Linked DNA regions of Homo sapiens. The protein of the gene in region 5 purifies or fractionates together with the protein of the main gene of each other region. This does not show direct contact. Each region holds a gene or a part of one and is shown on either strand. Other genes may lie near its edges. The genes, in order: DHCR7, FXN, SUCLA2, OCIAD1, ACP6 and LIMS1.

What was found.
Region 1: the proteins of ACP6 (region 5) and DHCR7 purify together in Homo sapiens (affinity purification with mass spectrometry, with the first as the bait; one large-scale study listed by BioGRID). This does not show direct contact.
Region 2: the proteins of ACP6 (region 5) and FXN purify together in Homo sapiens (co-immunoprecipitation; one large-scale study listed by IntAct). This does not show direct contact.
Region 3: the proteins of ACP6 (region 5) and SUCLA2 fractionate together in Homo sapiens (co-fractionation; one large-scale study listed by BioGRID). This does not show direct contact.
Region 4: the proteins of ACP6 (region 5) and OCIAD1 purify together in Homo sapiens (co-immunoprecipitation; one large-scale study listed by IntAct). This does not show direct contact.
Region 6: the proteins of ACP6 (region 5) and LIMS1 purify together in Homo sapiens (affinity purification with mass spectrometry, with the first as the bait; one large-scale study listed by BioGRID). This does not show direct contact.

The regions. Positions count from the first base shown.
Region 1 is NC_000011.10:71,441,846-71,446,885, forward strand, and holds part of DHCR7 (7-dehydrocholesterol reductase), read right to left. Parts: intron 3,114-5,040; 5' UTR 3,108-3,113; coding exon 3,010-3,107; intron 2,442-3,009; exon of another isoform or gene 2,371-2,441; coding exon 2,148-2,370; coding exon of another isoform or gene 2,112-2,147; intron 509-2,111; coding exon 418-508; intron 1-417. UniProt on the Homo sapiens protein: Oxidoreductase that catalyzes the last step of the cholesterol synthesis pathway, which transforms cholesta-5,7-dien-3beta-ol (7-dehydrocholesterol,7-DHC) into cholesterol by reducing the C7-C8 double bond of its sterol core.
Region 2 is NC_000009.12:69,073,142-69,077,593, reverse strand, and holds part of FXN (frataxin, mitochondrial isoform 1 preproprotein), read right to left. Parts: 3' UTR 1-4,452.
Region 3 is NC_000013.11:47,941,836-47,946,875, reverse strand, and holds the end of SUCLA2 (succinate--CoA ligase [ADP-forming] subunit beta, mitochondrial precursor), read left to right. Parts: intron 1-3,430; coding exon 3,431-3,505; 3' UTR 3,506-4,220; downstream 4,221-5,040. UniProt on the Homo sapiens protein: ATP-specific succinyl-CoA synthetase functions in the citric acid cycle (TCA), coupling the hydrolysis of succinyl-CoA to the synthesis of ATP and thus represents the only step of substrate-level phosphorylation in the TCA.
Region 4 is NC_000004.12:48,836,927-48,841,966, reverse strand, and holds part of OCIAD1 (OCIA domain-containing protein 1), read right to left. Parts: intron 1-5,040. UniProt on the Homo sapiens protein: Maintains stem cell potency. Increases STAT3 phosphorylation and controls ERK phosphorylation. May act as a scaffold, increasing STAT3 recruitment onto endosomes. Involved in integrin-mediated cancer cell adhesion and colony formation in ovarian cancer.
Region 5 is NC_000001.11:147,656,468-147,661,507, forward strand, and holds part of ACP6 (lysophosphatidic acid phosphatase type 6), read right to left. Parts: intron 3,309-5,040; coding exon 3,180-3,308; intron 3,060-3,179; coding exon 2,929-3,059; intron 2,573-2,928; coding exon 2,493-2,572; intron 206-2,492; exon of another isoform or gene 151-205; intron 1-150. UniProt on the Homo sapiens protein: Hydrolyzes lysophosphatidic acid (LPA) containing a medium length fatty acid chain to the corresponding monoacylglycerol.
Region 6 is NC_000002.12:108,536,524-108,541,563, forward strand, and holds part of LIMS1 (LIM and senescent cell antigen-like-containing domain protein 1), read left to right. Parts: intron 1-5,040. UniProt on the Homo sapiens protein: Within the IPP (ILK-PINCH-PARVIN) complex, binds to F-actin, promoting F-actin bundling, a process required to generate force for actin cytoskeleton reorganization and subsequent dynamic cell adhesion events such as cell spreading and migration.

The DNA.
Region 1 (5,040 bases), on a different chromosome or scaffold from region 5:
GGATGCGGTTCCAGTCTGCACCCACGTGAGAGGCACAAAGCCAGGCTCCTCGTGGGTTCTCAATGATGGCAAGGAATGAACAGACAAGGTCTCCCACGGACAGCCCCGAGGAATGGTGGTCTCTGCATGGTGGTCTCTGCAGGAAGCTTCATGGGCCGAGTGCATCCCCTGCTATGGGGCTGGGAAGGAGCTGGGCCATCCATTCCCTCCTTACCCAGGAAAGTGATTTCTAACCTGGGTGTGGGATGGCCCCAGCTGCCCTCAATGGTTTTGAGGCCTGGTGCTGTGAAAAATCCAAGCAAAATGGATTTCTATCCTGTGACAAGTCTTAGGGACAAAGCAGCGCTGGGGAGGACTGGCCCCTGAGAGAAAGGGATGAGAACGGGAGCCTGGGGAGGGTGGAAGGGAGGAGGCTACCTGCAGGAGTCACGGCCCCCTCCTGGATGCCTCCTACGTAGCCGGGTAGAAACTTATGGCAGAAGTCAGGGAGAGACGTGTACAGAAGCACCTGAAACACACAAGCAGCCTGATCACCCCCCGCCTGGAGGGCACCTGCAAAGGGGGACGCATAGCAGGAACATGAGAATCACAATCATAGTCTTTTTCTTCCTGAAGCACTTATGGCTCCTGGAAGCTCAAACTGCTGGGCTGTGGGTTTTGAAGGGGGTTCTGAGACAATAAACTCATCAACCAGGGAAGGTGCCAAGGCGTTCTCCCCCAGGGCTCCATTCGCCCCTCAGGAGAGCGCACAGGTCCCTCCCAGTCACCTTTTTAAAATGGAGAATCCCATAAAATTCAACTTTTTATATATATATATAAATCTATCTTTGAGATGAGGTCTTGTTCTACCACCCAGGCTGGAGTGTAGTGGTGCAATCATAGCTCACCGCAGCGTTGTCCTCCTGAGCTCAAGTGATCCTTCCACCTCAGCCTCCCAAGTAGCTGGGATTACAGGTGTGCACCACCACACCCGGCTAAAATTCACCCTTTTAAAGTGCACAATTCAGCGGCATTTAGCGCATTTACATGGTTGGTTGTACACCTATCACTGCTAATTCCAGAACTTTTCATCACCACAGAAGAAAATGTTGTTCCAATCTCCGGTCACTCTGAATTCCCTGTCCCTGCCGCCCCTGGCTGCCACTGAGCTTTCTGCCTCTGTGGATTTGCCTGTACTGGGTATTGCATATAAAGGGAACCACACAGTATGCAGCCTCTGTGACTGGCTTCTCTCGCTCAGCAGTGTCTTCAAGGGTCATCCGCCTACTGGCATCAGAGCTTCATTCCCTTCCGCTGCCAAATAGTGTCCCACAGTGGGCACAGTGTTCTGTTCTGTGGGTCCATTCATCTACTGATGGACAGGTGGGGGTTCCTGCTTTGTGGCTATTTGTGATTCACACTGCCCCTGTCATTTTTCACTCAAAGGGACCAAGAGATCTGAACTGAGAAGTATTCTGGAGCCCAGAAGCTTGGACCCTGGGGAGAAACAGCTAATCATGATCTGAGCCTTCCTCCCGCCCAGGAAGGAAAACCCAGGCCTGTCTCTTTCTAGCACCGTTTCCCTGGAAACCTTTTCCTGGGTTCAGGCAATCAGCACCACCCATGTGTGCACCAGGTTTACAACAACCCCTTCCTGGAACTCCCTCTGGACTGGGAGGCCAGTGGGGACACCATGGAGCTGAGGACGTCCTGGACCTGCCTCGACTGCCTGTGGGGAAACATGGCCCTCGCTTCTCTGAGTGGCATCTCATGACTGAGAGAGTCCCTTTGGGGACTGAGATGCTCCTTTCCAGACCTGGTGCAAGGCGTGACTCCTGCTGACAATGGGGCTTCCTCAGGACAGCACTGCCCTCCCACGGGGTTTTGCTCCTATCCTCAGCTTGTCCCTGCAGAGCTGGGCGTGCCCAGCAACTGCATGCAGGCATGCCGTGAAGGTGTATCAAACGCTGATGTGACAGGTGCCTCCTGCCTTACAGCTGAGGATGAATCTGAACATGTCAGAGTCCAGGGAATGCCCTGCTGGGTCCCGGGAACCCAGATGTCAACCTGAGCCAGGATCCATGTCCCAGACAAATGGAAGGACTACCCCAGCAGGAGGGCACGCTCCCCACCTGCTGTGTCCCAACCCCAGGGCAGGGGCTGCTGACCTGGAAGGTGACCCACAAGGTATAGAGCTGGGCGGCTTTCCTCGTTATAGGTGGAGTCTTGGCCCAGATGTCCGAGAGCCGAGCATGTCCGGTGACGATGTCCACCACAGGGCCAGTCAGGGCGCAGCTGTACTGGTCACAAGCCATGATGAAGTAGTAGACGATGAAGGGGGCGAACAGCAGTAGGAAGATGACGCTCGCCAGTGAAAACCAGTCCACCTCCCTGCGAGGACGGATGCAGGCAGTCACACTGGGGCCCATCTGCCCTGGGCCCCACCAGGACCCTAAGAGGCTCTGTGTGGGAGAACTGTTGCTCAAACCCACCAGTACCCCATGACAGAAGGCATTAGCTCCTAGCACGGGCCCTCCTTGCGGCCAGGGAAGCCACTCAACATGCCTGCTCTACTGTAGTTGATTAACTGGTGGCACTATCTGTGGCCCCCATGGAAGGCCCAGAGCTCAGAATATGAGCGGAGGTAGGTCTTTCACAACCACCAAGGCCAGTGGTTTCCCCAGTTCCAGGTCGGAGAGGATACTCACCCTGCACGAAGTCCCCATGGTTCTATGGCGAAATGGGAGCTGTGACAATAGGTCATACCCCCAGATGGTGGGAAGGCCCCAGCTGCCCTTTAAGCCTTTATCTTTTTTTCTAAGTTGTTGACTGACCATGATTTCTAGTTTCTTTTTATAATTCCTTACTTTATAAAGTGGAAAACTGTTTACCTTTCATTAGTCTTGACAAAAAAAAAAAAATCTTTTTTAAAAAGGTCCTTCATTCCTTTGGGTCCATACAATTCCAAAGGCTGGAAAGCTCTGAGACCACACTTTACTTTCTAGCTGGGAGAACAGGCAAGATCCTTACCAGGCACGGCCCCACTGCCCTTGAGATGCGGTTCTGTCATTGGTGACGCCATCTAGACTCTTGGCTTTGGGAATGTTGGGTTGCGATTTTGCAGCCATTGGGCCCTGCAAGAAAGAGAACCTTGCTTACATTATCCCTCAAATAACAGACACCACCTTTCCCTGTTGCATCCACCACTGCTCCTGGGCCTGGCAGGGCTGGCCTCCTGTGCACATCTTCCCGGTACCTTGTTCCTGACAGCAGATTCCAGGCAGGGAAGAGATCATCTTGTCTTAGACTCTCTTCCTTGGACCCTGCAATCACCTCCCACGTGACCTTGCTATGGCTGCTCTTGCTAGTCTCAGTTCATTCTCCAAACATGGCAGAATGCCCCCCCTCTTACAGCACAAGCTGGCTCCTGCCTCCCTCCTACACACCACTCTCCCCTATTCTCCTTTGGCTCCAGGAACACAGGGGTCTTCACTCATCCTTGAACACAGTTTAAATTGTCTGTGGCACTGACTTCCTCTGCTTAGAGCACGTTTGCAGGTGTCCTTGTTCAGGGCTCATGTAAAATGTCCCCTCCTGGGGAGATCTTCCCTCTCAGCCAATCTGAAGCAGCTGCTCCCCAGCTTCCCTGCCAAGGCCCTCCACTGGGTACTTTATTTTCTTAGTAACTCTCCCCATCGCCTAGAAGTATTCATTTGTGTGTGTGTATTGTCTGTCTCCCCTCACTAGAATGTAAGCTTCCCAAGGGCAGGAATTGTGTGTCCTCTTCATTGTTCTACTACCAGGGCCTAGAACAGTGGCCCATGTAGGACCATCAATAATCACCCTTCAAAAAAAAGGGGAAGAGAACACAGAATGTCTCTAGGTACCCACAGCTGCTCTACATGGTTATAATTTGGGGGAAGCAGTGACATCCCCACTTCCAGAACAAGTTCATAACTGTGAAGCTTTAAAATATCTGAGATTTTTTAAAAGATGCTCTTGAAAGCTTTTAGAGAAAAAACAGGAGTAAAAATCACAGTAGGCTTAGATTTCTCAACAGCAAGCTGGATTCTAGAAGACAATGATGAAAAACTTCAAAATTTTGAGGAAAACTTTTTGCAACCTAGAATTCTACTCCTATGTGAACTATTACTCAAGGACAACAACATAGGATCCAGGAAACTGGAGACCCAAGAGAGCTGCTGAAGCCATGTCCACAAAAGGGCAGGGGCAAGTCCCAAGAGGACAGCTATGCAGCAGGACTAACCAGAAACCAGTCCACATTGGTACAAGATGAATGGCTAGGAAAGAGAGGAAATGAAAATGATGAATTTTGTTGCATCTGAATGTGTAGGAAAATTATTGATATATGTGACAGCTCGGTTAGAGCATCCAGAAAAAAATGAATGAGAGATGCATAGAAACCTTACCAAATGAAAAAAAAAAAAAAAAAAAAAGGAAGGCAACTGTTAACTCCAGGAAAAATAAAAAGTCATATAAGGAAGGAAAAAAAGAAACCAAGCCATTATTATAGGACCTTACTTGGCTCAACAGTGAATAATGGTAATTTTGTCATAACAATGTATACTCTGACTATTTATTGACTATTGTATGCACAGAAGGGAATTTGCAAAGTTAGGGGTACTAAAAGGAAATTACTTAGAAACAAGTAGGTACAAACAACAACACAAAAGTAGCTGAAAGAATGAAAAGTGTTTGCTGCTGGCAAGCAAGACTGTCGGATGTGGGATGTGGTAGAGAGTATTTCTTCTGAAGCCTTTTAACACTGATTTTTAAAAAAATGTGTGCATGAATTACTTTAATAAAAATTCACACACATTTAAAAAATTTCAACGATGAAAGACATTTTCCTTATGCAGTGTGAGAACTTCAGTACCCGCACTTCATTCAATTTACACAAGTTAGTTTATGCAGTTCCTATGATGCACAAAACAAGACGAAGAGTTCTTGATAGGAAGAGACCGTGTCTCTCTCCGGCCCCAAATACTGAATACAGAGCCTGGCGAGTGCCAGTCACTCTCCTTATATCTGTAAAATCAA
Region 2 (4,452 bases), on a different chromosome or scaffold from region 5:
ACAGAAACACAAGTGGACAGCAGAGGCCCTTCTTGCACTAGTACTTCTACCTGGATGGGGCCTCAGAGGTCTGACTTTCCACAGGAGAAGAAAATCTTTGAGAGCCAATTTTACTGCTGGGTGCTGATGTTTTCCTCAACTGTCTAAATAAATCTTCAGCTAATAAACATTTCAATAAATCTGTTCTGGTGCCTTCCATTCCTTAAACTATACAGCCAGAGAAGATGGAACATATGAGCTTGGATTCTGTCTCTGTAGCGGATGCAGGGATATAAGTGAGCTGAGTTTTACACATTCCAAAGGGGCCACTGATCAGGTACTTCGGGATGCACTCCAAGTGTCCTGGCTAATTAAGATAAACCAAAGATTAGAAGGCATTTCTGGCTGGGTGCAGTGGCTCACGCCTGTAATCCCAGCACTTTGGGAGGCGGAGGCAGGTGGATTACTAGGTCAGGAGTTCAAGACCAGCCTGGCCATGATGGTGAAACCCCGTCTCTACTAAAAATACAAAAATTAGCCGGGTGTGGTGGCAGGCACCTGTAATCCCAGCTACTCGGGAGGCTGAGGCAGAGAATTGCTTGAACCCAGGAGGCGGAGGTTGTAGTGAGCCCAGATCGTGCCACTGCACTCCAGCCTGGGTGACAGAGCAAGACTCTGTCTCAAAAAAGAAAAGGCATTTCTTACTCTATACACAAAGTCATGAACTCGTCGTTTTGAACAGCATAAATTTACATGAAATTTCAAAACTTTGCCCCTCCTTCCCCTTTCTCCCTTGCTGGCATGTAGCTGTTTTAGTTTGTTCTAGCAGAAGATAACTATGTGCCAAGAATCCAACTGGACACGGACTAAAATTACTTTCATCTTAGTGTGTACCTTGGAAGCGTAAAGCGATTTTTCCTTGGCAACCTTGCATGGTTAGTCCACACAAACTCCATCACTATGAACATGGGTCTTCCTTTAGAGGTGGCAAAAGCATCTGTCAGAATTTGGGGCAGGTATAGCTGGATAAAGCATATTGTAAACCTATAATTTAATGCAAACTGTCAAATTTTAAATTGGCTAAAATAGTTTTAGAAGGTATGCAAAAGATCAAGTAAAATATAAGCATGGTAAGGCACACGATAAATGGTTCCAGGGAATCAGAATCTAATACGAAGTTAAGTAAACTGAGTATTTTGATTAAGTTCAAGGTTGAGTAGGGAACGTCATCCATATTTTGGGAGAAGTCCTCCAATGTGAATATGAAATTATGCTATGCATGTGAGAACAACAGTTGTCATGAACTGAGTACTTCTCACATCAGGATTGTGCTTTGCCTGTGGGCCCAGGCTCAACATGTTAGATATCTCCATTTTATAGATTAAAAAAAAAAAAAACATGAGGCCACTGTCAGTGTCTACAAACAAGTAAGAGGCAGAGTTTCGATTAAATTCTAAATTTGTGATTCAAAAACCCAGGTTCTCTTTTACACACCTCATTCCTTCTTTGTAATTCCAGAGAGCTAAATAAGTCATGCCAGAACATTTTATTTTCTATGTGGCTGAGGTTCTACCCACTCAAGAAGGTAAAAATAATAGAAAAAGCTTTCTGATGAACACCTGTGGCACACACCTGTAATCCCAGCATCTTGGGAGGACGAGGCAGGTGGATCACTTGAGCCTAAGTGTTAGAGACCAGCCTGGGCAACATGGTGAAACCCCATCTCTACAAAAAATACACAAATTAGCCAGCTATGGAGGTGCACACCTGTGGGAGGATTGCCCAAGCCCAGGGAGGTCGAGGCTGCCATGAGCTTTGATTGTACCACTGTCCTCCAGCCTGAGTGCCAAAGTGAGATCCTGTCTCAAAAAATAGAAAGGGGAAAAAAAAGTTTTCTAAGATTGTATTATGCAATTCCTCACCTCCTCCAGTATGTTACAGTGAATATTTAATAACCTTTTCCTGGAAACTCATCCTTCACATGGATGACTGGACCACACCATAAATGAGGCGATGCTCCCAGGGTCTGTGGTGGGGAGGCTATTGGTACACACAGTGGTACTTTTCCAGTTTGCTTGACAGAATATGATTTTGATTCTTCCCCTGGCTGCTGTTCATGTGTTTGAAGTCCCTTTATTTATTTATTTATTTATTTGAGACGGAGTATGGCTCTGTTGGCCAGGCTGGAGTGAAGTGGCATGATCTCGTCTCACTGCAACCTCCACCCCCCAGGTTACAGCGATTCTCCTGCCTCAGCCTCCTGAGTAGCTGAAATTATAGGCACGAACCACCACGCCCAGCCAATTTTTTAATATTTTTAGTAGAGACGGGATTTTGCCATGTTGGCCAGGCTGGTCTTGAACTCCTGACCTCAGGTGATACACTTGCCTCAGCCTCCCAAAGTGCTGGGATTACAGGCATGAGCCACTGTGCCAGGCCCCTTTTCTTTCCTTAAATGGGGATCTCCCACTGCCTTGGGAACGAGATAATCAAACCAATTAGAGCTATATGTAAAATGAAAGTAAAATAGGCCTGAAGGGCTGGCCCACAAGGACCCCATAAGAGCCCAGATTCCTTAACTTCCACTTTCATGTCAGAGCAGCCCCACTGCATACCTCTTTTGTGCTGTGTCCCAGATAAAGGAGTACATCATGTCACCGAGTTCTAAGTAAGTGGGGTGCACTGAAACTTTCAGTAGAAGCAAGATGCAAACACATACAAACATGTATGATGTTATTTATTTTCTCACTGGCACTGGCCTACTGCACTTAAACATTTCCATCAGACTCAAAAAATAATTTTATTTCAGAAAAAATATTTTACCTATTTAGCTTTTGTTTATACTGTTTTATTATTAATAGGTTTTTTTTTCTTTTTTTAAGAGATAGGATCTTGCTGTGTTGCCCAGGCTGATCTCCAATTCCTGGCTTCAAGCAATCCTCCTGTCTCAGCCTCCTGTGCAGCTGGGACTATAGGTATATGCCACTGCTCCCAGCTTGACTTAATGGAATGTGTTTTTATTCACCCATTGGAAAAGCCTTTGCTACATATTAATACAAACTTCTCATTAATAAACCCTCCTTTTTTTTTTTTTTGAGACGGAGTCTCGCTCTGTCGCTCAGGTACGATCTCGACTCACTGTAACCTCCTCCGCCTGGGGTCAAGCAATTCTCCCGTCTCAGCCTCCTGAGTACCTGGGATTACAGGTGCACGCCACCATGCCCAGCCACTAATAAATCCTTCTTTAAGTAAGAAAATAATATAACATGAGCATAACTTTGCATGAATTTTAATGTCCTGGAGGCTTGTTGCTTTGTATAAAGTGCAGGTCAGTAAAAATTAAAATGAGGTAATGTGGTATAATACGATTAACCCAGTAAGGGTACAATAAAGGATGGCTATTATTATTATTATATTGTTATTATTATTTTGAGACAGAGTTTTGCTCAGTCACCCAGGTTACAGTGCAATGGCACGATCTCGGCTCACTGCAACCTCCACCTCTGGGTTCAAGCGATTCTTCCGCTTCAGCCTCCCAAGTAGCTGGGATTACAGGCACCTGCCATCATGCCCGGCTAATTTTTTGTATTTTTAGTAGAGACGGGGTTTCATCATGTTGGCCAGGCTGGTCTTGAACTCCTGACCTCAGGTGATCCACCCACCTTGGCCTCCAAAAGTGCTGGGATTACAGGTGTGAGCCACCGCGCCAGGCCAAGGATGGCTATTATTTTCACATGAATTCAACTGAAATCACGATAGGGCAACACCAATAACAATGTTTCCTATATAGCTTAAAAACTGTTCTTTGTCATCCCCTCATCTACCCAATAGGGAATTAGAACTAGCCTGTTAGGTTGCTTGACAGGACCACTGAATGCTGGGAATCAACCATACTCTATTCTCTCATTTAACAGATGGGGAAGCAGAGGTCCAGGGAATTTGGGAAACTTGTCCACAAAGGGACAACTACTTTGTGGCTGAACTATGTCTAGGACCAGGGCTCTCTTTATCAACATGAGTATCTCCTTCCTTTATCTGCCCCTTCATGTTTACAAGGCACCTCCTCAGCTCCATGATTTTGTTTGTTACGCTACATCACTCAGCTCATGAAAACGGCTTTTTTTCCTCTTTTCTTGTCTTTGGAAGATTTTTTGCATTCTTGTAGCAGCTGATTCCATACTAACCTTTAAATTGAAAAAATATATATACACACAGACACGTATGTGAATATGTGGGAGAAACAGCACTAGGTCTCCCTGGACAACCCAGTGCAGGCCACACCTTGGCAGTCACAGAGCACAAATAAGAAATGATCTTCCCGTGTGAGTTGCTTTCGACACTTCAATGCTAAAGAGCTCAGAAGTGCTTACACTTTGAAAGAAGCCTGAAAACATTTGTAGGCTACCCTTTAATGTGTCTCATTTGGAGATAGAACAGTGAGCAGGTTGACCAGCTGCTCTTCATGTACTTCTT
Region 3 (5,040 bases), on a different chromosome or scaffold from region 5:
GGAGTATAGATTTTTTTTTCTTATCTGACATCTGTTTGTACCTTCGTTCATGCCATACTATCATAATTATTCATTTGCTTTGTCCCTTAGTACAGATATGACAGTTTTATAATAAGAATACCAACAGTCTGATTACTGAAAGCAATTATATCTGCATTTCTTTCTGTCCTTTAGGGTATGTCCCACAACTTAGTGGATTTTAAAATTCATGTGAAATAATTCTCTGTGTGTTTTGTCTCAGCTTTGTATAGTTTCATTGTTTTTAAAGGGATTGCTTTTTTTAAAAAAAAAAAAACACAACCTTTTGTTTTTTATTTTGTATTTACATGATTCCAAAGTGGAAAGTATAGAACAAGGTATTATCAGGGAATCTAGCTTTTATATATTTCCCTCTTTACTTCTTCCCCAACAGGCAACCTTTTTACCTTTTTTTTTTGTTTGTTTTTTAAGAAAGTTTTGGTTTATCTTTCCACTTCTTAAAAACATAAGCTAATTGTATGTATATAACTATATGTATGTGTGCAGTAGTCCCCCCTTATCTGCAGGGAATGTGTTGCAAGACCCCTAGTGGGTGCCTGAATCACAGATAGTTCCAAACCTGTATATACTGTGCTTCTTCCTGTACATATATTCCTTTGATAAAGTTTATGTATTAGACATAGTAACAGATTAACAACAACTAATAATAAAGTAGAACAATTATAACAATATACCGTGATAAATGTGAATGTGGTCTCTCAAAATATCTTATTGTTCTATACTCACCTTTGTGGTGATAATGAGATGATAAAATGCTTACTTGGTGAGATGAACTGAGGTGAATGATGAAGGCATTGTGACATAGTGTTAGGCTACTACTGACCTAATGATGTAACAGAAGGAGAATCATCTGCTTTGGTTCATCCTGGATCATTGAGCCATGATGTTGATTGTTGGATGTCAAGAGTAGATAATGTTGATGACTAATGGAAGAGTAGTTTATACAGCGTGGATACGCTGGGCAAAGAGATGGTTCACATTCCACTTGGAGCAGGATGGTGCAAGATTTCATCACACTTCTCAGAACAACACACAGTTTAAAACTTAATGACTTTTTTATTTCTGGAATTTCTCATTTAAAATTTTTGGACCACAGTTGACTGCAGGTAACTGAAACTGTAGAAAGTGAAATTGGATAAGGGGGGGACTTTGTGTGTGTGTGTGTGTGTGTGTGTGTGTGTGTGTGTGTGTGTCTCCCTTTTCCCACTTTAGATTAATGGTAATCTATACTTTGTTTCTTTTACTTAACAATAATGTGTATCAGAGAACACTTCATAGTAGATACAGAGAGATGAGAATTTTTTGTCTTCCCTTCCATTATGTTTATAGACATTTCATTGAACACTCGAACACTCTTTGGGCTCTATAGCTTAATCAATAGTAGATTCTTGATTTTTTTTTTTTTTTTTTTTTTGAGACTGAGTCTTGCTCTGTCACCTAGGCTGGAGTACAGTGGCGTGATCTCAGCTCACTGTAACCTTTGCCTCCTGGGTTTAAGCAATTCTTGTGTCTCAGCCTTCTGAGTAGCTGAGACTACAGGTGTGTGCCACCACGCCCAGCTAATTTTTTTTTTTTTTTTTTTTTTTTAAGACAGAGTTTTGGTCTTGTTGCCCAGGCTGGAGTGCAGTGGTGTGATCTCGGCTCACTGCAACCTCCATCTCCCAGGTTCAAGCAATCCTCCTGCCTCAGCCTCCCAAGCAGCTGGGATTACAGGCATGTACCACCATGCCTGGCTAATTATGTATTTTTAGTAGAGATGCGGTTTCACCATGTTGGTCAGGCTGGTCTTGAACCCCTGACTTTGTGATCCACCTGCCTCGGCCTCCCAAAGTGCTGGGATTCAGGTGTGAGCCACTGCGCCCAGCCTTGTATTTTTAGTAGAGATAGGGTTTTGCCATGTTGACCAGGCTGGTCTCGAACTCCAGACCTCATATGATCCTCCCACCTCGGCCTTCCAAAGTGCTGGGATTACAAGCATGAGCCCCCAGGCTTGGCCAGACTCTTGAATTTACCGAGTTAATGTGATGTCATTTCACAAAAATAATAAAAGTCTTATGTCCTTCTTTGGGAAAGTACTTACTAGTAAACAAAATTTAACTCTAGCTTGGAGACAGAAGAATTTAAACTTAAACCTGAATTAAAAATAAAGAATTTGAGCAAGGGAATAGTAGGAGAAAGTATTTCAGAAAGCCTATTTTGACTTTGAGATGTGGGATATATTGAAGGGAAAAGGGGAGAGATAGTAGGAGTCCATCTAGTGCAATACTTAGATATGAGAAAAGGTGAAGGTAATAAATAGGTTATAACTTGTCTCTGAAAGTGCACTTTTTTGGAATGAAAACTTAAATTAAGAAAAGCTTGGAGGACATGAAAAGAAGGAGAAGAACCAGTAGGACCTTGATCAAATAGATCATGAGAGGTAAAAGTGAACAGTTGATTTAAATTATGACTACAGTGTTTTTATTGACTGGGAGATTATAGAAGTCATAACAATAATAATATTGAATGAGATGATGATGATATTAGCAGTTACTACTGTTTATTGAGTGTTTACTGTGCATGCAATGCTAAGCTGTTTTCTTCAAGGATTATCTCATTTAATATGAATTTGGTGATAAAATTTCCATTTTTATAGATGAAGAAACAGGCTAGATAAGTTAACTTATTCAAGGTTGTATGTCATAAGCATCAGAGGGGGGATTTGCAGCCAAAGATATCTAACTTCAAAGCCTTTTCTTAACTAATTTACTGAGGAAGAGAGAAGCTGAGTTTGTTTTTTTGGTCTTAGACATGTCTAAATTTGTATGATGTTTTGTATGGTAACTGGTGGATATTTTTAGACAGATTGTAGAGAGAATTGGAACTCAGGTTAGCAATTGTTAACTTACTGACAAAAAGTAAAATACTAACTAGTAGACCCAAATTTCTATCCCAACATTTTAAGTTAAGATTGTATACTTATTTCAAAACAAATTTTTACTTAGATGTGCTTTGAGTTGTGGAGTATCCAACAAAGACACTCACTGTTTCTGTCTTTAAGATAAAATTTAGAATAATATATATATATATACACACACACACACACACACACATACATACACACACATTTTATACACACATATATAATCTTATGTAATACATATGTGTAATCCTAGCAGGTGGTATAACATCTTAATCAGAAAGTATTTAATTGAAGTTTGGACTATGAGGAGTGTCAGACTTGATTATCCTTTGAGAATGTCATTTGCTTATAAGAACGTAATGTGATTTATAGCAATGTCAGAATAGTCCAGATGTTTTAAATGGAAAAAATTGAGTGTACATTAATTTTGCACTGACCTGTAGTTCTGAATTTACCTTTTTGTGAAAATTCTTCGTTCTTTTCTTTTAGGTTGTAAAGCTCTCTGAAATAGTGACCTTAGCGAAGCAAGCACATGTGGATGTGAAATTTCAGTTGCCAATATGATCTGAAAACCCAGTGGATGGCTGAAGGTGTTAAATGTGCTATAATCATTAAGAATACTGTGTTCTGTGTTATTGTTCTTTTTCTTTTTAGTGTGTGGAGATTGTAATTGCCATCTAGGCACACAAACATTTAAAAGGATTTGGACTGCATTTAATTGTACCATTCAGAATGGACTGTTTGTACGAAGCATGTATAATGCAGTTATCTTCTTTCTTTTGTCGCAGCCAGTCTTTTTTGCTTCTCCTACAAAACGTAACTTGCAATTTGCCAGTTTATTATTGTTGGATACAAAGTTCTTCATTGATAAGAGTCCTATAAATAAGATAAATACGAAGATAAAGCTTTATTCTTTAGTGTTAAAATACAGTATATCTAATAACTAGCCTCATTAGTAGAGCAGTATATTAAAACAATGTTTTATGTAAAAAGTGTTTATCTTCAGCACCAAATACATGATAAATGTATCAATCACTATTTATAAACAGAGCTTTCAAACACTCCTCAGAATATTCTTCTAAGTATTTTGATGAAGTAACTTTGTAATTATTTGAACATTGTTTTAATCATTAGGAAACACTGATTAACTGCAAGTCTTCATGATTCTGTCATATTAAGAAACACCTGTAGGTTTGCTTCAAATAAAGGCATATATACCAAGGACTTACAGACAAAATTAAGAATGTCAATTTAAGTTAATAAAAATCTCCCAATATGATTTGGGTTCATGGCTTTTGTTTGCTTGTTTTGAGGTAAACACAGTAGAAGTTGATTTGTTCGTTATTGCAGTATAGAGGTCTAAGCACCAATTCTTAGATCATATACTTGCCATGACAGTGATTTGTTTTTTTTTTTGAGTCAGGGTCTCACTCTGTCACCCAAGCTGGAGTGCAGTGGTATGATCATGCTCACTGCAACCTCTGCCTCCTGGGCTCAAGCAGTCCTCCCACCTGAGCCTCCTAAGTAGCAGGGACTACAGGCACACACCACAAAAAAACATATGTGTTTTTTTTTGTTTTTGATTTTTGTTTTTTTTTTGGTAGGGACAGGGTATCACTATGTTGCTTAGGCTGGTCTCTTACTCCTGAGCTCAAGCAATCCTCCTGGCTTTGCCTCCCAAAATGTTGAGATTACATGTATGAACTACTGCACCCAGCCAACCATACATATTATACAGCTACTTATAGATAGATAGTTCACTGGAAGTCTGCTATTTATGTGTATGCCATCTAGTATATCCTCTAAAGGAAACAGAGGGGAGAATTGAATCCAAGATGCCTAACTTCAAAGCCTTTTCTTAACTATTTTACTGAGGAAGAGAGAAGCTGAGTTTATTTTTTGGTCTTGGACATGTCTAAATTTGTATGATGTTTTTGTTTTTGTTTTTGTTTTGAGATGGAGTCTCGCTCTGTTGCCCAGGCTGGAGTGCTGTTGCACGATCTCAGCTCACTGCAAGCTCCGCCTCTGGGGTTCACACCATTCTCCTGCCTCAGCCTCCCGAGTAGCTGGGACTACAGGCGCCTGCCACCACACCCAGC
Region 4 (5,040 bases), on a different chromosome or scaffold from region 5:
ATACGGTGGCTGGGGCAAAAATTAAAAAGCACATATTTTAAACACTTATGTTCTTTCTTCTAAACTAGTGAACTCCTTAAACTATATGAAAATATTACATCTATATATATATATGCCTAAAACCGAGAGTGAAAAATCCAAAACTCATAATCTCAAAGGGGGCTATAACTTAAAAACAGCTATGAATCACTGTTCTTTACACCAGCACTGTCTAACAGAATTTTTTATGATAATGGAAGTTGGTCTTTGAGTGACCAACCCTGTGATCAATTTGGTCTTGGTACTTGACTGGTAAACAGTTCCCCCCATTGATATGCGTAATTGGCTCACTGTGCCCAAACTGTTTGTACAAATACAGTTCATGCCAAACATCTGCTTTCATTCTAGGAGTCTGGAATTTTGGTACCTGTTAGGCAGAGGGTGAATAAGTGACCAGCCCCCAATAAAAACTGTGGGCACTGAGTCTCTAATGAGTTCCCCGGGTAGATACAACTTCACACATTGTTATGACTAGCTGTTGGAGAAATTTACACTCCCTGGGAAGAGAACTCTTGGGACCTGGTTTCCGCCGGACTTCACCCCATGCTCCCTTTCCTTTTATGATTTTGCTTTATATCCTTTCACTGCAAGTTATTTTAAAGTTAAATTGCTACATGTGACTACTGGCTGCCACACTGGACAGTGCTGTTCCAGACCTGAGGTTGGCAAACACGTTCTATGAAGAGCCAGATGGTAAATATTTTGGGTTTTGTGGGCCAATCTCTGTCCCAGTTACTCAATTGCCGTTTTAAAGCAAAAGCACCGAAAGACAATCCAAAAACACATGAACGTAGCTGTGTTCCAACAAAACTTTATTTTTAGATGCAAACATATGAATTTCATGTAATTTCACACGTAATGAAATATTCTTTTCCTTTGATTTCTTAACCATTTTATCTTATTTTATGTTTTTAGACAAAGTCTCACTCTATCACCAAGGCTGGAATGCAGTGGTACAATCTCATCTCACTGCAGCCTCAACCTGCCGGCTCAGATGATCCTCCTGCTTCAGCCTCCCAAGTGGTTGGGACTACAGGCATGCACCGCCATGCCTGGCTAATTTTTTGTCTTTTTTCTTTTTTTTTTTTTTTTTTGTAGAGATGAGGTTTCGCCAAGTTGCCCAGGCTGGTCTCGATCTCCTTGGTTCAAGTAATCAGCCCACCTCAGCCTCCCAAAGTGCTGGGATTACAGGCGTGAGCCACTGCACCCAGCCTCTTAACCATTTAAAAATGTAAAAACAATTCTTAGCTCATGCATACAAAAACAGATTTGGTCCATGGGCTAGTTTGTTCAACTCTGGTCTAAACCATATATGGACAATTTAAGAACCAAAGTAATTAAGACATTTGAATTATTACAGATTTCATGATTAAAATCCATCACTTTGGAATAGGGCATTAACTTTGCCATCACACACAAATTGCACAAACGCTAAGGTCTGAATTCATGCTATCCTACTTACTAACAGATTTTACCTTTGCTGGAAATATGGTTTCTTTAATGTTGGCTAGTTAGAATGCCTTCATGCATTATCATTTATCATTTAAGGTTTTGCAAAGGACAAATCCCTTTTAATTACAGCACCAGTACAATTTGCAATCATTTTTCTCCAGCTTGACTCAAGGATTGCAACATGAAGCACTGAAGAATCATATAAGAATAAAAGGCAATGAGTTAGCTGGCCATTTCTACAATGGATAATGCTTTCCCCATTTAATGCAGAGTAATAGTCTGTTCGAGGAGATTCTAGTACTAGTTCTGCCATTCACCACAATGTCTTTGCATAGCTTCTTCTCATGCTATAAAGGAATAATGGATTAGACCTAAGGTCTCATTCCAACTCAGGTATTCTACTTTATGTCACAGAAAAAGACAATGGTAAGACTGAAAGAGGCTTCAGAGATTATCTAGTCCTCATTCCAATCTGAGTACACTAATATCCAGAAAAGACAAGTCATTTGCTCAAAGCAACACAGCTGGTTAGTTTGTGGTAATGCTGAGATCAGAACCCAAGTCTCCTGACTCCCTAGTCAGTGGCCTTTTCCACTACAGTATGTAATATCTATTTTGTTAAATAATCTGTCTCTATAGGCAAATCAGTAATACTGCTGACCAAAACCTAGTGCACATTATTACCACAGTCCCAAACTATATTCAATATATACAAGAATCCCTACAATTATTTGAACTCTTCTCCCCTCACAGTAACAAAAAGCTACTCTATATTCCTAACTGTAGTCAATAAAAATTTTTATTTCATTAATCATAATAACACTAATAGCTATTTAATAAAGATAGCCAACACTTAATTAAATTGCATTAATCCCTATAATAATTTCATGAGCTAGGCAGTTATCCCCATTTTATAGATAAGAAAAGTATAGCACAGACCTCAGGAACTTGTCCAAAATCTCACAGCTACTGTGTGTGGAGCTGGGATTTGAATCCAGCCAATCAGGCCTCAGAGTCCATACTCTTTTTTTTTTTTTTTTGAGATGAAGTCTCGCTTTGTCACCCAGGCTGGAGTGCAATGTCACAATCCTGACTCAATGCAACCTCTGCCTCCCGAGTTCAAGCCATTCTCCTGCCTCAGCCTCCCAAGAAGCTGGGACTACAGGCATGTGCCACCACACCTGGCTAATTTTTGTATTTTTAGTAGAGACAGGGTTTCACCATGTTAGCCAGGCTGGTCTTGAACTCTTGACCTCAAGTGATCCACCCACCTCGGCCTCTCAAAATGCTGGGATTACAGGTGTGAGCCACCATGCCTGGCCCATACTCTTATCACTCTTATACTGTATCATTTGAAAACTAGTAGTACACATATATGAAATATTATTCATAGACTCCAGCTGATACAAATATGAACTGATACATCTTTTTAGTAATTCTGGAGTTTGAGAACTATTTTAACATGAATATGCAATAAACTGACCCTATATGCACAGGGTCTTCACTACCTGTGTGTTTGGGCACAGACATAGTGATTTTAGGTCAGTGCATAGGGTCACGATTTTAAGCACCTAGAAATAAGATGCCTTCATAGTTATATTTCAGATTAATGGAATGTAGGTCAGTATAGAAACATAGTTATCTTAAGGAAAGAGAATGGTCCCTAGATCAACAAGTCTAATTTTAGAAGAGGATAAGTATTTTAACAGACCTAAAAAATGTATAAAAAATTACCTTAGTAAGTGCTTTTTTATAAATTCGTAAATGCTTTTATCACCTTTTTCTAATCCAAGGTGATACTCTCCAAAGTAACAGATGCCATTATTTGTTTACATAAATGTCACATACAGCATAGACTATCTAATTCGAAAGTACAAATGTTAAAGTACAAAATTTCCTATGTATGATTATCATCCTTCTGATAATTATACGTTGAACTTCCTATCACCTGGTTACAACCAAGCTTCTACATTTCAATGTTTGATGCTATAATATGCAACAACACCTTGGTTATCTGTTTTGAGAGTGAAATGCTACCTATTAATACAGTAATTTTTTGGCTGCTGTAATTTCTCAGTAATGTAGATATGGTATAAAATTAACAAGCTGTCTTTCAGCCTGTCCTTATCACATGCTTTTTGTCTTTTTTTTTTTTTTTGAGATGGAGTCTCGCTCTGTCGCCCAGGCTGGAGTGCAGTGGCACGATCTTGGCTTGCTGCAACCTCTGCCTCCCGGGTTCAAGCGATTCTCCTGTCTCAGCCTCTCGAGTAGCTGGAATTACAGGCACCTGCCACCATGCTCAGCTAATTTTTGTATTCTTAGTAGAGACGGGGTTTCACCATATAGGTCAGGCTGGTCTCGAACTCCTGACCTCAGGTGATCTGCCTGCCTCAGCCTCCCAAAGTGCTGGGATTACAGGTGTGAGCCACCAAGCCCAGCCGCTTTTTGTCTTTTCAACCTGTGATTTATCTGTTTTAATGCACAGAAATCACTTAGCTTTGTACTGTTCATATACCACATGTCCCACTATTAAGAGTCTGGTATACACGGGCATCCTGACATTGTTCACTACCCTTTAATGTACTTTTGGCATAAACCTGTCACAGCTATTTAGATTGTTAAACACCTGCAGCAGCATACATTTATCAGCCAGAAATAAATCTGGACACCTTAGCATCTATTTAACCGTTAGCCCAACACTACAATAATCCCAAATCCCCTCTATCACACTTGCCTTTTTCTTAATCCTGTGTCATCAAGACTTAAAAATAGATCATTTTATCCTATCTACTCTATATAATCTTCAAAGATTTAAAAAAAAAAAAAAAAAAAAGAACTGTTGCTGGAGTATACAGCCAAGTTCTCTAAGAAATTCTTCCCATTCTGGCCAGGCACAGTGGCTCATGCTTGTAATCCCAGAACTTTGTGAGGCCGAGGTGGGCAGATCACAAGGTCAGGAGCTCGAGACCAGCCTGGCCAACATGGTGAAACTCCTTCTCTACCAAAAATACAAAAATTAGCTGAGCATGGTGGCAGGCGCCTATAAGCCCAGCTACTTGGGAAGCTGAGGCAGGAGAATTGCTTGAACCCAGGAGGCAGGGGTTGCAGTGAGCCAAGACTGTGCCATTGCATTCCAGCCTGGGCAACAAGAGTGAAACCCAGTCACAAAAAAAAGAACACCGAAAAAAGAAAAAAAAACAAAAAAAAAAAAACGATGGCTTACGTCTGTAATCCCAGCACTTTGGGAGGCCGAGGCAGGTGGATCACAAGGTCAGGAGATGGAGACCATCCTGGTTAACACGGTGAAACCCCATCTCTAGTAAAAATACAAAAAAAAATAGCCAGGTATGGTGGCAGGCGCCTGTAATCCCAGCTACTCGGGAGGCTGAGGCAGGAGAATGGTATGAACCCAGGAGGCGGAGCTTGCAGTGAGCCAAGATTGCACCACCGTACTCCAGCCTGGGGGATAGAGCGAGACTCCGTCTCAAAAAAAAAGAAAGAAATTATTCCCATTCTAATGAGCCATGAAAATTTTATAGAAGCCCTTAC
Region 5 (5,040 bases):
TCTGCAAGATTTGTTGTGAAAAGGAAAAACCAAATGATCCGATGCCGCCTCCAGATATACATGTCCTCAAATAAACAGTTGAGCATAAAAGGAAAAAGTAGGATTCTGAACCAAGACTGCCAGAGTTTGAATCCTAATTCCACCATTTACCAGTTTTGTGTCCCTGGGCAAGTCACTGAGCCTCTCTGTGTCTTGGTTCTCTTATCTGTAAAAGGGGATAATGACACCTATCTTATAGGGTTACTACAAGAATTAAACAAGTTAATATATGCGAAGTTCTTAGAACAAAGTTTGCTGCATACAATTGGTCCTCCATGTCCTTGGATTCTACATCTATGGATTCAATCAACCATGGATTAACAATATTTGAGTAAAAAAGAACAATACAAAATAACACAATAAAAATAACATAAATTAGAAAATAGTACAGGGTAATACACAGCATTTACATTGTATTGGGTATTATGTCATCTACAGATGATTTGAAGTACATGGGAGGATGGGCATAGGTTATATGCAAAGCTATGCCATTTTATAAAAGGGACTTGAGCATCTGTAGATTTTGGTATCTGCCCGGGGAGAGGGTTGTCCTGGAATCAATCCCTTTTGGATACTGTGGAATGACTGTACTAAGTCCTTTATGTGTTAGAATAACTATGACTTAAACTTATAACACTAATAATATTATAAACCTCTAATATTTCCATCTGGAGTCTGATATTGGTGTCTGGATTTTGGACCCAGTTTATGATAAATAAGGCACACTTGAGTAGACAAATGTACATTGAGCAAATGACTTGGCCAGTGGGCAGACCAACAATCTCCAGCTTTCCCCACAGCCTGATTCTCTGTAGCCTATACGTAACCACTGGGATTTTTCTAGGATTTTACTCCTAAAGCAATATCCCAAAGTTGCACCATTTCCATCAACAGTGCCACCTTCTGGGATTCTTTTTTTGTTTGTTTGTTTTTTGAGATGGAGTCTCGCTGTCACCCAGGCTGGAGTGCAGTGGTGCGATCTCGGCTCACTGCAACCTCCGCCTCCCGAGTTCAAACGATTCTCCTGCCTCAGCCTCCTGAATAGCTGGGATTACAGGCGCCCACCACCACGCCTGGCTAATTTTTGTATTTTTAGTACAGATGGGGTTTCACCATCTTGGCCAGGCTGGTCTTGAACTCCTGATCTCATGATCCACCCGCCTCAGCCTCCCAAAGTGCTAGGATTACAAGCGTGAACTACTGTGCCTGGCCCCTTCTGGGATTCTTTGTTCAAGTCCCTTCATATAGGAAAGGCATGGAAGTAGCTACAAAAGAAGCCAATCTGGAGTCCCAACAACTGTAGGTCCAGCGCAGGGAGCTGCTACCCAGACACCTGCACCTGAGGCTAGTGATTTCCTTCCCTGATGGAAACCTGGGATATTCCCAGTCTGGGACCTGCCTAAAGAGAATGTTGCCACCAATAAACATCTTTCCTTCTCAGTACCACTTCTGATGTTTCTGAGAAGATCTTTGCCTTTTAGAAGCTGAGCAGTTGAGAGCTTTCAGAAGATCAGGTGCTGTGGATCACTCCTAAACTCAAGGCTTCCCAAGAAGTAAGGGGCAGCCCATCCTGCTTTATGTGACCTAGACACGTACTGTTTGTGTGCAGCAGCCAACTACAGCCAGAACTAGCAGCAGTATCCAACCCAGTTGAGGGCAAGACCAGATTCCTCTTTCCTGAAGGTTCCATTATTTTACATATTTCTTAAAAAATGTGATGGAAATTTTGTTTCTATTTGAGATACTGCCAAAAAGCTAAACAAAGTAACAAGAACCTTTGCTTTTTGGCACCTTTTTAATAAGGTCATGATGATCTGAAACTCAGACCAGTAATTAAATGTAAATTTGAGCCAATAACAAATGACAAAATGCAGCTTCATGTGATGGCCAAAGGCTCTCAACACATGGGATCCATGAGGGAAAATAATTAATGCAGTCCTTGGGGATGAAAAGGTTGGGAACCACTGACTGCAACCATTCAGGGGCTGAATGTATCAAAACCCAAACTCGATGGACTTTCTCAACTAGGAAAGGCTAGACGGAACAGTGTTCATGCTGTGGATTATCACCAAGATTAGGGCAGTAGCAGCAGTGTTGGGTCCCAGTGTCCTTCCTTTCCAGCAATGTCTCACCTAAATAAAAAGCCCCCTCGATTGTTCACAAAACATGGTTAGGACTGCCTTGTGCAGCTTGTGTAGAAGCTTGAGGGGAGAAGCCAGGAGCCAGAGGCAGATCAGAGCAGCTGCTACACTGCTGCTGCTGTGGAGGTCAGGCTGGCAGGGGCACCATAAGGCCAGACAGGGAAAGACCCACTGGACTAGGTACACACTGGAAGTCACACATGCAGGAGAAAAAAAGTCAAGGGAACAGGCACCAAGAAAGAGATAGGGGCTTCGGAAGTGAGAAGCAAGACCCCTCAGGGACAGGGACTGACTGGGACCCCAAATACGAACCTTCTTTCTGACACTGGAAAAGCCCAGCCAGCAAACAACGGGTGGACTCCAGATTCCGAAAAATGTTAGTGGAACGAATACTGAAAAAAATGAGAAAATAGTGACACTCATAAAAGGAATATTTAATTATATACACTCTATTTTATTCCACATACGCTCCAGGGGTCTTTCAAGAGTACATAAGGAGAGCTATGGAACTAGGAAGAATGCTTCACTTTTCTGTGGGATGTCAGCCCCTGAGAGACTCGAAGTGCAATGAATGCGACCTCCAGGAACGACCTGTTCACCAGATCCTGTGACATAAGGGTATGCAGCATGACAAGTTGTCCCCCAAACTACCTTGGGTGACAGTGGGAACCATCTTGGGGAGTCAGGACAGGTATCCTCATGTTCAAGACCTTAAATTAAGTGCAACATCCCCTTTCAAGTGACTCACAAGACCTCCTGTGGGTTGAAGGTTGGTGAAAGAAAGGGAATGTCTTCCACATAGTTCTTCCTCAGTCTCTCTCCCAAGGCAAACATTTGCTGCATGCCCACCTTGGTCAGCTGCCCAGCAAACATGCCCCCCTAAAGTAGGGAAGAAAGAGAAAGAAGAATGAAAACACCTGACAGCCTGCTGAACTCAGCCCAGAGAAAACAACCCAACCTTTGCAGTGGGGCTCCCCAGAGCAAGGAAGCATTGCTCACCTTCAGGGTGGTCTCATGGTATTGAGAGTCGTAAGGAGAATATGGTTTCGGACCACCAGCTAGATTGGTGACTGTGTAATCAAACTGAGTTTGGGGTGGGACCTCTAATAGCTGGGGGTTCCACTCTACCTGTTAGTACAAAAAAAACACACCACATTGTTTAAAAATGGTTCTTGAAATGTATAGCATTAACATCTCAAGCACTCAGAACACATGGCTGGAATCACTGACACTAGGCCTGCAACCTTCCTATGGGATGGAAGGAAAGAAATGTTAGCTAAAATTAAGGGAAGAAAAGATGGTGATTTATTATTCCAGGTGTCCTTAGCCTATGTCCTGTTATTGCTACACTAGTAATGACTGCTAAGGGGCTGCTCTGGCACTTAGCCCACACTGAAGTAAAGGGGAGAAGTGACCAGAATGCCTGGCATGCGGATACGTGGTGAATGAACGAATAGATGGATGAAAGAAATAAGATGTCAGTGACCATATGTAAGAATTTATAAGGAATTAATCTGGAGGTTTATATGCCCTATCCCAGCTTAAGGATTCTACTTAATGTCCCTTGTAACTAATATACTTTTTTCCTCCTTTCATGCAATTCGTGAAACAAGCAGCTGCCATCTCAGAAGATGTTGCTTTTTCATCATCTTCCATTATTCCTTGCAATCTGGCTCCTGCCCCAACTGTGCTGTAATGATTTCAAAACATCACTAGTGGCCACAGGTCTCATAGCTCCAACTGTTCATAAAACTCTGACACTCATTGAGTCAGATGTGAATACTTCAATTTTAAAAACAAGTCTAATCCCATAGACCAGTTCCCCTTCCCAATCTACTATGTCCCTCTCAATGTTACCACAGTTCTCCTAGGCCCCAAACCTCAAACCTTTGGCTCCCTGTGGATCCACTATCCCCACACCAAGCCCTGTTGATCACTGCCTAGAAGAAAAGTCCCTCCCAATGGTCCTTCCATTATCTTATTGTAGAATGTAAACCTTATTAGTGCCTGTGACAAACTCCTCCCTTTCACCTGCACAATCCATCTATCCATAGCCAACTAATTAATCTTTTTGGAAAAAATATTTTTATTGCATTTAAATATTTTGTTTTATTTTTAATTGACAAATAATTGTATATTGTATATATTTATGGAGTACAATGTGATGTTTTCATATATATTTACATTTGATATATGATTAACTAATGTAAACAAAATCCATCAGCTCACATACTTTCATTTTTACGTGATGAAAATATGTAAAGTTAACCTTTTAGTAACATAGGCATACATCATTTTATTGCTCTTTACAGAGATTGCATTTTTCACAAATTGAAGGTTTGGAGAACTCTGCATTGAGCAAGTCTATCAGTGCCATTTTTCCAACAGCATGTGCTCATTCATGTCTCTGTGTAAAATCTGGTAATTCTCATAATATTCCAAACTTTTTCATTACTATTAAATCTGTCAAGGTGATCTATGATTTATGATTTGTTTTTCTTTTTGAAATGGGGTCTGGCTCTGTTGCCCAGGCTGGAGTACAGTGGCATGATCTTGGCTCACTGAAACGTCTGCCTCCTGGAGTGCAGTGGCATTACCTTGGCTCATCCTCTCACCTCAGCCTCCCGAGCAGCTGGGACTACAGGCATATACCATCATGCCCAGCTAATTTTTTTTTTTTGAGAGACAGGGTTTTGCCATGTTTCCCAGGCTGATCCTGAACTCTGTGATCTTTGATGTTACTATTTTAACTATTTGGGAGCGCCACAAACCGCCCCCATATAAGATGCCAAACTTAATCAATAAATGTTGTGTGTTTTCTGAGTGCTCTGCTGACTGGTATTTCCCCCATCTCTCTCCC
Region 6 (5,040 bases), on a different chromosome or scaffold from region 5:
TCAGGCTGTTAGTTTTGGGCTATTAAGAAAGCTACTACGAACAAATAGACAGGTGTTTGTTGTTGTTTTTGAGACAGTGTCTTGCTTAGTCACCCAGACTGGAGTGGAATGCAGTAGCATGATCATGACTTACTGCACCCTAGACCTCCCAGGCTGAAGCAATCCTTCCACCTCAGTCCCCCAAGTAGCTGGGACTACAGACACACGCCACCATGCCTGGATAATTTTTGTATTTTTTTGGTAGAAACAGGGTTTCGCCATGTTGTCCAGGCTAGTCTGGGGGTCCCAAACTCCTGGGTTCCAGCAGTCCACCCACCTCAGCCTCCCAAAGTGCTGGAATTTTAGAGCCACTGTGCTCAGCCTGTCTAAGTTTTATGTGAATGTAACTTTTCCTTTTCTGGGATAAATGTCCAAGAGTGTGCAATTGGCAGGTTGTACAGAAATCGTATGTTTAGTTTTTTGAGAAACTGACAGTTTTTTTCCAGCATGACTGTACCATTTCACTTAAAAAGTGAAATTGACATTATTTTCCTGTGAGTACATAAAGGTAAAGAATTCAGGGACAGTACCACGGCCCTCTTTAGTGCTAAGCGGCCAGCAGTTGTACCGACTGTTGTTTTTGCACTATCTGTGTGTCAACACAGTCCACAATGCTACAGTGACTTCTTAGGAATATCTTAGTATGATGAAAATAGTTTTGATCTCTCGGATCCCTTAGAAAGGTCTTGGAGACCCTCAGGAGTTCAAGGCCATACTTTAAGAACCACTGTTAAAGACATAATCCTAAATGATGAAGGATATGCAGGTATTGGGGATATTTAAAAAGGAACAAATACAAGGTTTCTCTTAAAATTGCTCTTGAATGCTTGTGGTAGTGTGTGCCTTGTAGTTTTGGCTAGTTTTAGTAGGATGTAATAACTAAGACTTGGACCACCATGGAAGAAGCAACTTTCTGCCTTTCAGGATTTTCCCTGATAAGAAAATGGCCAGTGCCATTATGAAGAGGGACAATGCCATGGGCCTAAGTGTATTCACACTTTTCAGTGCTCTGTGCCTGTTTGTATGGTGAGAAAATCGAACTGTTGATTTTTAAGAAAGCTAAGGAAAGTTTGGTGGTACAAAAGATCATTTCAGTTCTGGTGGTTCCGGTTTTTGCAGGCTTAGAGAAAACTGTCCATCAGGATTGTGCTGTCTTGATTTTATTTGATCATTCCCACCCTTTTCCCTTTGCTGTAGCCCCTTGACCTGTCTCCTGGGCAGTTCTTTCCTTTGCTAAATGTGAGTACAACAAGTAGGCTTTCCTTTCCTCCTAGAGAGGGGGACCTTGGAGCCCCTCCACTGGGTCAGAGAAACTTCCATAGCTGCAGCAGATCAGTAACAGGAGAGCCGAGCTTTACTCTGAAAGCCTCTATTTTCAATAATGTTGTGTTTGCTCTTTGGATAATCATTTAAATAAATAAACCTCAGTATAGGTCATGTTCTTACCTAGGTTTGCACTTAAATAGAAGGAAAAACATCTCAAACCATTTTGTTAGTTTTATAGTTCTCGTAACTACACTTTAAGCTGTGGTTTTCCACCCACAGGGATGTCATCTACATTATATGCTGGACTGTTGCCACATTGTCTTCCAAAAACTTTAATTTTAAGACACTTGAGAAGCAGGAGCTGCACTACCTGTTGCCATATACTGTGCATTCTTCAGCAACAGAGGTTTCCTTTTCACTCTTTCTGATATAATCTCATCTCTTTTATTTGATCATATCACACATTTCCACCCTGGAGCTTACTGCAGGAATGAGTAAGGGAGTCATTTTCCTGCATCTTTTTTCACGTTGGAGCACGTTTTGGAGCTTGATGAGTCTTCAGTGACATTTAACAGTGGGGCGGGACAGCTGCAGATAAAGCAAGTGCTGAAGAGTGCATTCTGTGAGAGGTAGGAAGAAAGGTGAAGGCAGTAGTTCAGCTGCTGGGAGTATGTGCTTGGCAGTGGGAGGCACGGGACTCAGCATCAGCACACCAGGAATCCAGGGCTTTCAGGATGTCTGAGTAGCAGGCAAGGTAAAGCAAGATAACAGACAACATGCATTTACAAGTAATGTTTACACATACTTTCCCTTTCTACAAAAATGGAATCATAGTCATACTATTCTGCAATTGCTTTTTTTAGTATTAAAAAAGTTACGGGAAAACATGCAAAACAAAATTTACTATTTTAACCATTTTTGAGTGTACAGTTCTGTGGCATTATGTACATTGACGTTGCTGTGCAACCATCACTACCCTTCCTTCCAAGAACTTTTTCATCTTCCCAAACTGAAACTCTGTGACCAGTAAATACCAACTCCCCATTTCTTGCAATTGCTTTTTTACTTCAACAAGCTGTCTTAGAGCGGTGTATCTGGGTTTACCTTATGTTTTTTAACCTTAGTTTTAATGGCTGCATAGTATTTCACAGTGTACATGTGATATGATTTGTACATCCAGTCCTTGACTAGTGGTTATTTGGGTTCTATTTTTTAATTATCACAAACACTTTGAACATCTCTGCCAGAGTGTTTTTTGTTTTGTTTTGTTTTTGAGACAAGGTCTCACTCTGTCACCCAGGCTGGAGTAAAGTGGTGCAATCATGGCTCACTGCAGCCTCAACCTCCTGGGGTCAGGTGATCCTTTCACCTTAGACTTCTGAGTAGCTGGGACAACAGGTACATGCCACTATGCCCGGCTAATATTTTGTATTTTTTGTAGTGACAGGGTTTCCCCATCTTGCCCAGCCTAGTGTTGAATTCCTGGCCTCAAGCGATCCGCCCTTCTCGGCCTCTCAAAGTTCTGGGATTACAGGCGCGAGCCACTGCACCCAGCTACCAGAGTTTTCATAGCTTTCTGAGTGTAGAGTTAGTATGTGCATGAGTGTTTGGGTCCATGTTCTAGTCCTAGTTCTGTCCCTTCATGGCTCTTTGACTTTGGCCCTGTCAGCGTCTTTAAGCCTCAGATTCTTAATTTATAAAATAATCCCACCTGTCTCAGAGGTTGTTGTGATAACTAAATATGAAGGCAAATGCAAATATTTCTGAAAGGATACCGATGAAATTTTTAGTGATTGTTGCTTCTGGAGAGGGAGTCTAGGCACCTGAGAATCCAGGATGAGAGGGACATTTTTTGTTGTATAGCTTTTTGTACTGTTTTGATTTTTAAAATCGTGTATGTTTTCATTTTTAAACCATTTAACACCATGCCAGGAACATAGTAGATGCTCAATGAAGTCATCATTTCCCATCATCCTGGTTCTTTTCCTCCGGACTTATACTGCTGCTAATGGCACCTAACATGGTTGCTTTTGTTTCTTCCTGTCCTTCCCTCCCTATAGCCACCTTCTTGCTGAGTTCTTACCTTCGAATTTTCTCTTGAATCCATCGTTTTCTTTTTTCACTCCTTTCTTACTGATTTCCTTTTCACCCTGGTTCTGAAAATCTTTCAAATGAACATAAGATGATAGTATTAAGACTGGGAAAGACTTGAGAGAATGCAGAGCCAGTGTCCTGTGGACTGTAAACTTATTCCAACTGGCTTGAAAAAAAAAATCTATGCACATACTAAGTGTTTGAAGTGGAACAAATGATGTTTTGTGAATGTTTCTAATTTTCATTTAACAGGTGATAAAGTACAGATTCCTTTTTTTTTTTTTTTTTTTTTTTGAGACGGAGTCTTGCTCTGTTGCCCAGGCTGGAGTGCAGTGGCATGATCTCGGCTCACTGCAGGCTCCGCCTCCCGGGTTCAAGTCATTCTCCTGCCTCAGCTTCCCAAGTAGCTAGGACTACAGGCGCCTGCCACAACACCTGGCTAATTTTTTGTATTTTTAGTAAAGACGGAGTTTCACCGTGTTAGCCAGGATGGTCTCTACCTCCTGACCTTGTGATCTGCCCGCCTCGGCCTCCCAAAGTGCTGGGATTACAGACTTGAGCCACCGCGCCTGGCTGATAAAGTACAGATTCTTTTAAAGGGTTTGTGGAATTCGTGGTAGTATTTATATAGTGCATGCTTTATCTGTTAACGTGCTAAAAAGACAATCATGGTGACATGAAGATCTAAGAAAATTTATTTAACATTTAAAAAGTGGGTTTATATGTGAAAAAGTTGGAACCTACTGAACTCATGCACTTTAGTGGGTCCCCTGCATTAGCCCTTTATTTAAATACACTGCTTCTTTATTTTACAGGACAGGATTTGCCTAGAAGGTAAAATAGTTTATTCAAGGCCGAAAGTCAGTTAACAGCAGGGTTAGGAATACAGCCCAAGATGTGGTTGTATTGTGGGGTCTCCTCTGCTATATTACGTTGGTTTGCTCTGTTACTTTATTCACATTGCATTGTTACAGTTTGTTGTGTGTATATATTTTATCTTTTTGTCTACAGTATAGAGTAAATACCTTGAGGACCAAGACCTATAGCTGAGCCCATTAACATAGTACATTTGGAAATGTCTGAATGAATTATGGATATTGGCCCAGAATTGTTCTATTACAGGTGTCCTGGATGTCAGTCTCTTTCAAGTGATTCCTTTTGAAGAACACTTCAGAAGTGTTGTTGAAGACCTGGTATTCCTAGCCACATGTGCTGGTGCTTGCAACTTTTTCCTCCCCAGAGAGATCCCTTCCTATTGACGGGCTTCCTTACCAATGCATCAGCTGAGTGACAAATGTTACCAACTACTTAAACAGATATGTTTATTTCTCATTGGTAAATGTAGCTGTTGTTTTGTTTTTGTTTGCTTACTTTTAAAGCTGGGCACATTGCTGTCCATTTTAAAATTTGCCTTGTTAATACAGTGAGGAAGGGAGGGAGAATGGACATTGGGTAGGCAGTTGCAGCTTTTGCCACAGCTAGCTGTTTCTCCTTCTCAGTGCAGTAGATTCAACAGGATTTGTTTTTCTGTGCAGGTACAGTGCAGGTGCACCTGACTGATCTGTCATCCATGTTGGTTTCAGATTTTTCTAAAGAACTACTTTGGTCACATGTTTTCAAAATATTGAGAAGCTGCTTATT